2 linked regions of the Homo sapiens genome follow. The protein of the gene in region 2 purifies or fractionates together with the protein of the main gene of each other region. This does not show direct contact. Each region holds a gene or a part of one and is shown on either strand. Other genes may lie near its edges.

Region 1 (4,794 bases), on a different chromosome or scaffold from region 2:
AAATGTGTTTAAATTTCTGCAAGTTTTAGGTAAAACTTGCATTTCCTAATGCGTCTAGGTTTAATCAAATCATTTGATAATTAGCTTTGCAAAAAGAAGTAATAAAAGAATCACATCTCAGGAATATGTTAAGGTTTTTTCCTCCTTAGGGACTTTAGTTCGTGTTCAGTCTGTAGCCGAAACATGTATGTAATGGCAAAAGAATTAAAGAAGGCTAATGTCTGCAGCAGGGAATATAAATTAAAAATCAGGGTTCTGCCTGTAATAATATTTTCAATGTGTTTGCTTTAAAGAATGTTACTTTTATAATTATTACTACTTATCAATGAATAATAATGTTTTTCAGTGTAGACAAAATAGTATTTTCTATCCCTTACATTTAAAGCAGGTGATACAAGTTACTTGATGCTAGCTAGGTAAGTCATTGTAAGGGAGACAGATTTCTAGTGCTAATGTTCTACGATGGCTATAATCAAAGTACCAACTTGGCCTTCGTGAAAATGACAGAAGGTTGTCATGGTTGTCCTTCAATACAGAACCATAAACAGAGCTCTTATTGGTAAATTTGTAATTCATTCTTCTCTGCTAAAGACTTTAGCCTCTGTTTAGCTTTTGTTGTGACACATACAAAGTATAATATATACCAATTACAGACGTGTATTTCTGTTAGAAAAATACATATTATAACTAAAGAACATGTAAATAGAGGCACTTCAATAAGCTAAGTGTTTGCAGTTATGAGCATCACCCACCAATTTCTAGTGTCAGGTTTCAGTGAGCCCATTCCTCTCTATTCATAACAAAAGTTATGATATGATTACAGAATTTAGGGAACATCAGAGCAAATGAGGGGCAGGTCATAAAAAATAATGAAGCCTCATTGCATCCCCTATCACTATGCTGAAATGAGAAAAAATAATTCGAGGGTTGAATTCCAAAATACTTACTGAAATAGGGTAACTAGGTTAAGTGAAATCCTTTAGGGCCAAAACATTTCTCATGTTAAATTAGTCTGAAAATCATATGACATAGTAGTATGATGATAAAAACTAGGAAGTACAACTTGAATGATATTTTGACCACATCCATGCAGGGTGCTAACACTGTGACATCATTAACTGATATCATTTCAGCTCTCTGCCTGGCTCATTATGCATCACTATATCTCATCAATATGAATCATATTGATAATGAAGGTGTTGAAACAAATGAAGCAGGCGTTTATATATTAACTGTGTGTTTAGTGCGTATAGAACATGGGTTCACATTCACTAATATTATGTGTATTCATACACATGCACAAAACCTTTTGGGGGTGAAAGCACAGGAAAAACAAGGCATCCTGATCTAGTTCATAAAAGAGAATGCAGAAATATTTTAAAAAGGAAAGACCTGGAGTTTAAAGCCATAAAAGCAAGTTATTATTCAAATAGTCTGGAAAATCAAGGTTGATTTAATTTGTATTGCACCTTAATTATTGGAGAAAGACAATACTGACTTCTGAACACAGAATGAAATGAGCAATGTAAATGACTGGTCCTTCATAGAGAAGTCTTATGTGGAATTTGTGGTAGGAAGCCAAAATGTGGGCAGTGAAATGGATGGTTTTCTAGGAGTATGTAATGATGAACTAGATGGTTAATTTCATAAAGGTTTAAATGAAAGAATGCCACAAAGTCTCTCATCATCCTACATTTTATATTTCATTAGGCATAAAGTAGCAATAGATGCTTGTAAATACTTTCTGTCTTGCAAAAGTGCTCAAATATACTTAATACTATTGTGCCACATGTGTTCTACTTAAATGTGATGACTAAATCAATAACTAATTTTAATTTTGATGAGAACAGATTGAAAAATACCATTTACGTGTCAATACTGTCGATGAGTTAATTAAAATGTAACTGGCCTACTATGGTGTCTTGAAACATTACTTTTCCCTACTCCAGATGCATCATAAAAACTAAGAAACATATGGATAGCCAACTGTATTCATAAAGCCCCCAGTTGGGTTTATTTTGCTTCTCTCTGTCAGGGGGAGCGAAAGGCCTGGCTTTGGCCTACTTGGTGAACAGGTTAGGCTGTGGCTCTAAACTGGCCTATTGAGTTAGGTAATGTATCCAAGTGCCAGGCAGGAATCCTAGGCCGAAGGTGTTTTACATGAAAGCAATGGTTTTTCATGAATAACATTCTTTACACATACAGTTTCCATCACCGGTAAAGCCCTGCACACCAATGGCTCATCCCATGAGTTTGGTGTAGTCTGGAGCACCCAGGCTGAAGCACACTCATGCAGAAGGGTGTGCCCTGGCAAATTTTTAATAAATGGACAGTTAGATACATAAAAAGTTCTCTTTCTTGATTCTTGGTGCTCACCGATCACTGAGGAATCCCTTCTTTGAGCAGCACAAAACAAGAAGAGCTGGTTGACAAAACATTTTCTTACAAAGGTGTGTCAACCCTGAGCTTGGAATTAAGAAGTTAAAATCTGTGATTTATATATACATAGATATAAAAATAGATGATCATACTAAGACTAAAAAAGTGAAAGAAATCTCCATGTCAATACTATATATATATATTTTTTGTCTTGACTTTTTTTTTCTGTTGTGAGTTGTTTTGTAAGAGAATGCCCTTGTGATGCAGAAACCAACTGACACAAAGTAAATAGTTAAAAATGAAAACTCAGGAATGGATCTAATTGTGTTTCAATTCATTAAAAAAACTATTGTTTTGGGAGGGTAATGAGCACAGGGGCAGAAACGTCTAGTTAATGTCAAACCTGTGGCAAAAGCAGAGATTGTATCATCAAAGATTATTTTCAATTGAGACTCTTGAGGAAGGTGAATTGATGGGGGTAGCTACTAGTAATTGAAGATGAAGGGGAAAATCTGTGCCAATTGGATACAGCGGACAGACATTAAGGGAATTAAGAATAATGGTGCCATTACTAAATTGAAATTGGGCAGAGTAAGACAGAGGTACTGAGTTGTAGTAATTTGTGTTCTCATATTAAAGACGGGATTCCAAATTTAGTATCAGTACCTCCAGATTAATTTGGTGTTGTTTGGTTAGAGTGCAAGATGATACCTCCAAGACAACAGTGCATTTTCACTACATTTAGAACAAACTTTAAGCTTTCTCCCCATAAGCATTTTTAAACCCGGATTTGTCACAAAAAAGCTTACACTGGAAGTTGGCTGTCAATGCTGAACTTACAGTGTTAAAGTTCATTTATTTTTCTCTGTTTGCTTTTTTGTTGAAAATGTAGCTGTCTTGGGGTTTGGCCCGATTTTACAAGGAAAATTATTTTCTTTCTTCCTTTTTTATTTTAAATGAGAAAAAAAAAACCCTCACAACGTGAGATTCCTTTACTTCTGCAGCATAAAAGCAAATGAAGGTAAGAAAATCTCCTGGTACGAAAAATTTGAGTAAGAATTCTCTCTAGAATAAACAAGGTCCCCACAGATAGCTGAAGGAAAGAGGAAGCAGTTCAGTCTGGCACCCGGTACTCTTTGGGAAAACAAAAAGGGAGGCAGATTGCATTACTGCTCTCTTCTCATAGAAAACGGTAAGTTTTTGTGGCATGGTCCATTGTCCAAGAGTGTAAGAAAAGAAGTGAGTTGGCCATTCAGATAGCTAAAATGCAGTTTCATCTGACCAAAAACCCAAGATTATCTGCACAGTCTCTGCAGTGCCAGGACAATGCAGGTGAGAGACCAGGAGAGCAGGGAGTGGCCACGCTGGGCTGCAGAAGAGTCCACCTCTCTCCGGTCGGGATCCACTGCGGGGGCCTCTGTGGTGACAAACTCAAACTCCGTGGGACACACGTCATCCATGCACCCACTGCCACTCCCTGAGCCACTGGATTCATCACCTAGTGTGGAAAGATTGAAAAAGAAAGTTAGACCACTGATATGTTTAGGCTTTGTGGCCCCACCCAAATCTCATCTTGAATTGTAATCCCCATAATCCCCACCTGTCAGGGGAGAGGCCATGTGGAGGTAATTCAATCATGGTGGTGGTTTCCCCCATCCTGTTCTCGTGATAGTGAGTGAGTTCTCACGAGATCTGATGGTTTTTTAAGGGGCTCTTCCCCCACGGCTTGGCACTTCTCTTTCCTGTCACCTTGTGAAGAAGGTCTTTTGCTTCCCCTTCGCCTTCCACCATGATTGTAATTTTCCTGAGGCCTCCCCAGCCATGCTGAACTGTGAGTTAATTAACCACTTTCCTTTATAAATTACCCAGTCTCGGGCAGTTCTTTATAGCAGTATGAAAACGGACTAATACAACCAACCAGGAAAGAGTGGAAACAGAGCTCAGCAGATATGGGGCATGGTGGTGGGAGGCAAAATCTCCCCATCCATGGTCCCCCACCCTACCCAACAGGATTGTTTTTAATAGGCAGTGGTGTGATGAGTGGGTGGACTGTACAGAAATAGGTGTTTGAAGAACAATATCAACTGATACCTGAGTTATGCAACCCAAGGAATGTGTGAACCCCAGACTCAAGGGGAGGCCACACCTACCATGTTGGCCTTAGACATTTCTTCTGGCCAGTACTTAAGTTTAAGAAATTCCATTCTTTGCTCTTTTTATACTCAGAGCCATTGCTCTAGGAAGATACCATGCTTTTTAAAGGATTTTAAAAGAAAAATAGAGGAAAACAAGTTCTACAAATAGGAAATGAGAGGAGCAGCAGCAATAGTAGTGAGAGGTCTCTATCAATATGACTTTTGTCCACCTTTTCCCCACCTGTGTTCTCCTGAGAGCAAGGCTGGACTCTGTCCCAGC
Region 2 (5,288 bases):
TGGAAAATTCCGAGGCCCGGGGTGGGGCCTGAACCTCTGCCTTTAGAAAATTCCACAAAGCCTTTTCCTCAGCCGTCAGCCTTCAACCTGAAGGCCAAGCTGAGAGGTCCACGCAATGCAGTCTTCAGAGGCCCTGGTGGCTGGTTTAAGGGGTGCGGCCAATGCTGAGGTGAGTGAGCTCCCCAGTGACATTGTGCCCTGCAGGTCCACACTGCTGGCTGGACACTTCGAGGCTAGCGCCAAGTATGGATTAGCCATGCTACGGTCTCTGTTCTGCTCAATAGCAATGACTGTGAATAGGTAAATAAATCGCTTAAGGAGAGACATTTGCTTTCAGTGGCTCATCAATAATTCACATAGAAACGAGCATTTCTAAAGCACAGTGAGGAGACAGAGCTGGAACAGTTTCTTGCCAGGACATATCATGGGCAACTGGAACCCAAGTTTAGGCAAGACAGGAAAAACCACCACCTGCAAATTATCTTTTCCCTCAAATGGATAAACAGGCGCAGGGTGCGGTGAAAGCCGTCATTCCGTTCAGCAGCAGCCACGCCGCTGAGACGGAGCAACGGCCGAGCATACGCAGCCGCACTCACCACCGCTGGTACAGGTAGACCAGAAACACCACGTCGTCCCGGAAGCAGGCCAGCCGGTGAGACGTGGGCATGGTGATGATGAAGGCAAAGACGTCATCAATGAAGGTGTTGAAAGCCTGCAGGGCCAGACGGGAGGAGGGTGAACCCCAGTTGCTGGGGCTGGAATCCTACTGTTTTTGGTAACCTAACCAAGCCAACGGCTTTTGGCAGATGCTTGGAACTAACTGGAACTCCTCACAGCAACAACAAAAAGAGCAGAAAGCCGGCAAGTGGAGATACGGAGCTCTGTTCCCTCATGGGCTCCCCACAGCTGCTGGCACCCGACACACTGCGGGTCTTGCCCAGGCTCCCACATCGGGGAACCCAAAGAGAATGGCCTGAAACCAGAGCCAAGGCTGGAGCCGCCCGAGACAGAGCCAAGGGCAGAGCCACCTGAGACCAGAGCCAAGGTTAGAGCCGCCCGAGACCACAGCCAAGGGGAGAGCCAAGGGCAGAGCCACCTGAGCATTGCCCTTTCCTCTGGGAGCTTGTAATTGACTTCAGAAAAGTGCAAATCATGTCCCATTAACTCAGCTCCGCCTGCAATGCCGAGGCACTTCTAATCCCACACGGAGCCAAGGGGGCCTCCACAGCTCTGCCAGCGGGGAATGGCCACGGCCCATGGGGGCTTCCATTCCTGCCTGGGAGGCCTGAATCCGTTGTCCCCAGGCACCGGTTACTGAGCCACAGGGGGTCTGTGTCTTGACACATGTGCTAAGAAGAAACATAAACACTAAAAAAGAAAAAGAAAACCAAATCTGTGACAAGTGAGAGAACCACCCCAGTCTTTCAGGGTCTGAAGTTACTCTATAGCTCTTCGCTTTTTTTTTTAAAGGAGCCTCCTCAATATTCTTCAATGAAAGGGACAGGTGCAGATGCACTCTGGGCAGAGATGGCCCCAGTAATGCTGTTGGCTGGAAGACGCCCTTGCTCACGCTCTGCTCAGTGAGAAGGGATTCCTCACCGGCTGTCACACTCACCTTGTAGGTGAAGGCCTTCCAGGGCAGATGTGCCACTGACTTCAACTGAAACAGGAGAGACAGGCCCAGGTCAGCTGTGGGCAGCACAGGAGACGGGGGCCGGGCCGCGGGCAGCACACACCGCCTTACCTTGTAGTTCACAAAGAGCTGGGGCAGCATGAAGAGGAAACCAAAGGCATAGACCCCTGCAGAAAGACAGACAGCACTCACGAGGTGCGGAGGGCCGGGCTGCCACATCTACGCACAGACGGCACTCACGAGGTGTGGAGGGCCGAGCTGCCACGTCTATGCATAGTGGGCAGAAAACAAGGTCTGCTATCCAGACAACTTCAGAGTCCATCATGGTGTGAAGCAGCTTTCTGGCTGGTAAGTTTATCAAGAGTCTACGACAACTTTGGAGAGCAAAGCTCTTCTATTTATTAATCAGTGTAACTGCTGCCCACGGGGTCAAGTCAGTGAGAGCACTGGAGCACCCTGGGGCTATGAGGACACGGCCTCCTGACCCACAAGGTCCTGCCCCAGGGGTCAGGTGTGGGACTCCTACCAGGGAGGACGGCAGTGCGGGACCCACCTGCTCTGCACCAGACAGGCCCTCGCCCTTAATGCTCACGGGACCACTTCCCAAAGAGACCACAAAGCTGCGATCAGGGCTGGTCTGGTGGGGCTGGGGGATGGACACAGCAGCCCATGCAGCTGAAGGTGCCACCTGGGGCAGGCGGGCCTCCCAGGACATGTGGCCCCGAGCACAGGGCCCTGCAGGGTCCCCACACTGCATCTGCAGGAGGGGGCGCGCCGTGCACCAGAGCCTGGTGCTTCCATTTGCTCTAAGGAACCAGACGTGGATGGTGTTGTTTTAATGCTTAGGTTTCCTTGTTTCCATGAAGAAAACAGACAACAGTCATGCACCACACAATGCTGTTTTCATCAGCGATGGACACATATACCAGGCGGCTGCACCACACAGCCTGGCGTGGAGGGGCTGCCACATCTGGTGTGAGCACTCCCTGTCGCTTGTACAAGGACCTGTTTCTCAGAACCAGTCACTGTTGTGAAGCCACGCAGGGCTTTATCTGCTCACAGCCTGGGGGGAGCCCTGGGCACCGCACATGTGCCAGAACAGGGTGGGGAGGGATTAGCCTCAAATCACAGGGGGGCTTGCCACACTGGGTTTCAATGCAAGAACAATTAAATCGCTGCCTGCTGGAAACACTAGTACTGAAGCAGGGAAGCACATGGACTCACCGTTGACGAAGCTGTTGATTAACCAGGAGTACCAGCTGAAACGGAAAAAAAAGGAGAAGTCCTATTTCTCGCATAGCTTAATATCTGTATTAAATTGATGAAAAATAATTCTTTCATTAAAAATCCTCTGAAAATACCCAGATGCTCTCACGGCAGCTCGGCAGCCAAGAGCAGCAGTGCTGAGCCTGGTTCTCAAGCTGGAGATAGCGCTGAGCACCCCCGGCCGGGCAGCAGAGGCCGGGCACTCCAGGAACCCCTCAGCTCAGGGCCAGCACCCCACCTGGGCAGCAGAGGCCAGGGGCTCCAGGACCCCTCTCAGCTCAGGGCCAGCACCCTGCCCGGGCAGCAGAGGCCGGGCACTCCAGGAACCCCTCAGCTCAGGGCCAGCACCCCACCTGGGCAGCAGAGGCTGGAGGCTCCGGGATCCCTCTTGGCTCAGGGCCAGCAGCCCACCTGGGCAACAGAGGCTGGGGGCTCCGGGATCCCTCTTGGCTCAGGGCCAGCACCCCACCCGGGCAGCAGAGGCTGGAGGCTCCAGGACCCCTCTCGGCTCAGGGCCAACACCCCACCCAGGCAGCAGAGGCCGGGGGCTCCGGGAACCCTCTCAGCTCAGGGCCAGCACCCCACACGGGCAGCAGAGGCCAGGGGCTCCAGGACCCCTCTCAGCTCAGGCCCAAGCCTCCCATGAAGCCTGGTGGCTGGAGTCAGTCCTCTCAGCTACACCTTACCAGGGGGACACTGAGGCCCAGAGCCCACCGTGTGCAGCTGCAGGGGCAGGACCCCTCCCAGGCGCTGGCCCAAGTGCCCCGGCCCCGAGTTTGCCCTCCAGTCGCACCCCGCTCTGGCTCAGTCATCCAAATGGCTTTCTCAGGGGAAAGACGCAGCAGGGGAAGCGTGTGCGGCCTCCTACCTCTTATATTTGATATTCAGGAGTGAATAGACAGCACCCCCGACACAGAGAGGGTACAGCAGGTATGACAAGTACTTCATGGCCTGCAGGGAACAAAGATGGCTTCCAGTTAGAGGCCCAAACGCCAAGCCTCTGTAAACACACTGCATGGAGCTCACCCCGACAGGGACAGACAGAACGAGCTACAGCGCTCAGGGTGGCAGGGCTGCTCTGCAGGGGGCGGCGTGAGGGGCACAGGCAGGGCATCGCACACTCGCCACAGCCCCAGGAGGCACCGCACACGCCAGAGCCCGGGTGTAACTACAGGCGCTAGTTAACAATAATAGATCAATTCTGGTTGGTCAAAACCAACCAACCCACAACAGATCAATAAACATAATGGAAAGAAACCGGAAAAAACTGCCTACTAAGTAATGTAGTTACATCGCCAGCTGTATCCATTCTGATTTCAGCTTTACAACGCCATGCAAGTTGGATATAAGCTGGTGAAGATTAAACCAAACTAAAATCATCTGTGCAGAAATGTTCTATTAACTGGAACTGAGAATTCCAGCTCCCCCAACAGCAATGGGGAAAGGTGACGCCCTGTGCTGCTGGGGCCATTCCTCCAGGCCACTGTGCGGCCGCGGCCATTATGGCCTTGGTGACGGCAAGTGCGTTCCCAGCAACCACAGCAGACACCATGGCCTGCGTCAGCTGCCTGGCGAATGTGACTTACAAACGATGAAAATATCCCTACTATACGGTGACACAGGCAGGCTGTGCCTGTAAGGACTGGGAAATGAGTCTCTGCGAGCCCCCGCCCTTCCCAGTAAGAAATTTGGGTTTTATGTGTTCACTCTTGGGATCCCTGCTCAAGGCGGGCTGACCCGTACTCCAAGGAGACTTCCGCACTGAGCAATGACAGTAAAAGACCCGTCTTTGAGGGTGTTGGATTTGCCTGGCATGCACGTGCCCTGAATCACAAGTGACTTACCTGAGTATCGTACTCCTCGGTTTTCCTCTCAGATTCGCTGTAAGTGCCAAACTGTTGTGAAATTCAACACAGTGATATTAATAGACTCAGGGAGGATCTGAGCACAGCTGAGCTGTGACTAAGGGGCGTCACATATGGCTGCAGAGCTGACCCAGGCCTCACTACAGAGGGCGCTCAGGTCCCTACCAGGCGAGGAGAGGACCCAGAGGACGGGGATCCGCATGGATCCTTCCCGCCTCACCCTGGCCCTGGGTCCCACAAGCCTGATGGGGGCAACGCGGCCTCACTGCTGTTCCTTGCTCAGGTGGCTCAGTTTTCAGTGCCACCGCTTCAGTGAGAACACTGCAGAGCACACAGGCACAGCCAACACTGCTCCGAACCAGCCGGCCGGGAGCCATGGGGCAAGGTGGAACACAGTGGCTGCGCTGCGTGTGCTGGGCTTCCTGACCCCCCTGCCCACAGCATGGAAAATCTCAGCCTGTGACTGCTGAGGGCCCCGCCTCAATCAAGGTCCATCCGTGGGCACTGAGATTCAACTCCAGCTC

Evidence for each region. Proteins that work in one complex are often made in the same cells at the same time.
Region 1: the proteins of CLPTM1L (region 2) and GPC6 purify together in Homo sapiens (co-immunoprecipitation; one large-scale study listed by IntAct). This does not show direct contact.

The regions. Positions count from the first base shown.
Region 1 is NC_000013.11:94,402,098-94,406,891, reverse strand, and holds part of GPC6 (glypican-6 precursor), read right to left. Parts: intron 3,878-4,794; coding exon 3,675-3,877; 3' UTR 1-3,674. UniProt on the Homo sapiens protein: Cell surface proteoglycan that bears heparan sulfate. Putative cell surface coreceptor for growth factors, extracellular matrix proteins, proteases and anti-proteases. Enhances migration and invasion of cancer cells through WNT5A signaling.
Region 2 is NC_000005.10:1,320,020-1,325,307, forward strand, and holds part of CLPTM1L (lipid scramblase CLPTM1L), read right to left. Parts: intron 4,795-5,288; coding exon 4,744-4,794; intron 3,851-4,743; coding exon 3,768-3,850; intron 2,893-3,767; coding exon 2,858-2,892; intron 1,801-2,857; coding exon 1,745-1,800; intron 1,661-1,744; coding exon 1,616-1,660; intron 713-1,615; coding exon 597-712; intron 1-596. UniProt on the Homo sapiens protein: Scramblase that mediates the translocation of glucosaminylphosphatidylinositol (alpha-D-GlcN-(1-6)-(1,2-diacyl-sn-glycero-3-phospho)-1D-myo-inositol, GlcN-PI) across the endoplasmic reticulum (ER) membrane, from the cytosolic leaflet to the luminal leaflet of the ER membrane, where it participates in the biosynthesis of glycosylphosphatidylinositol (GPI).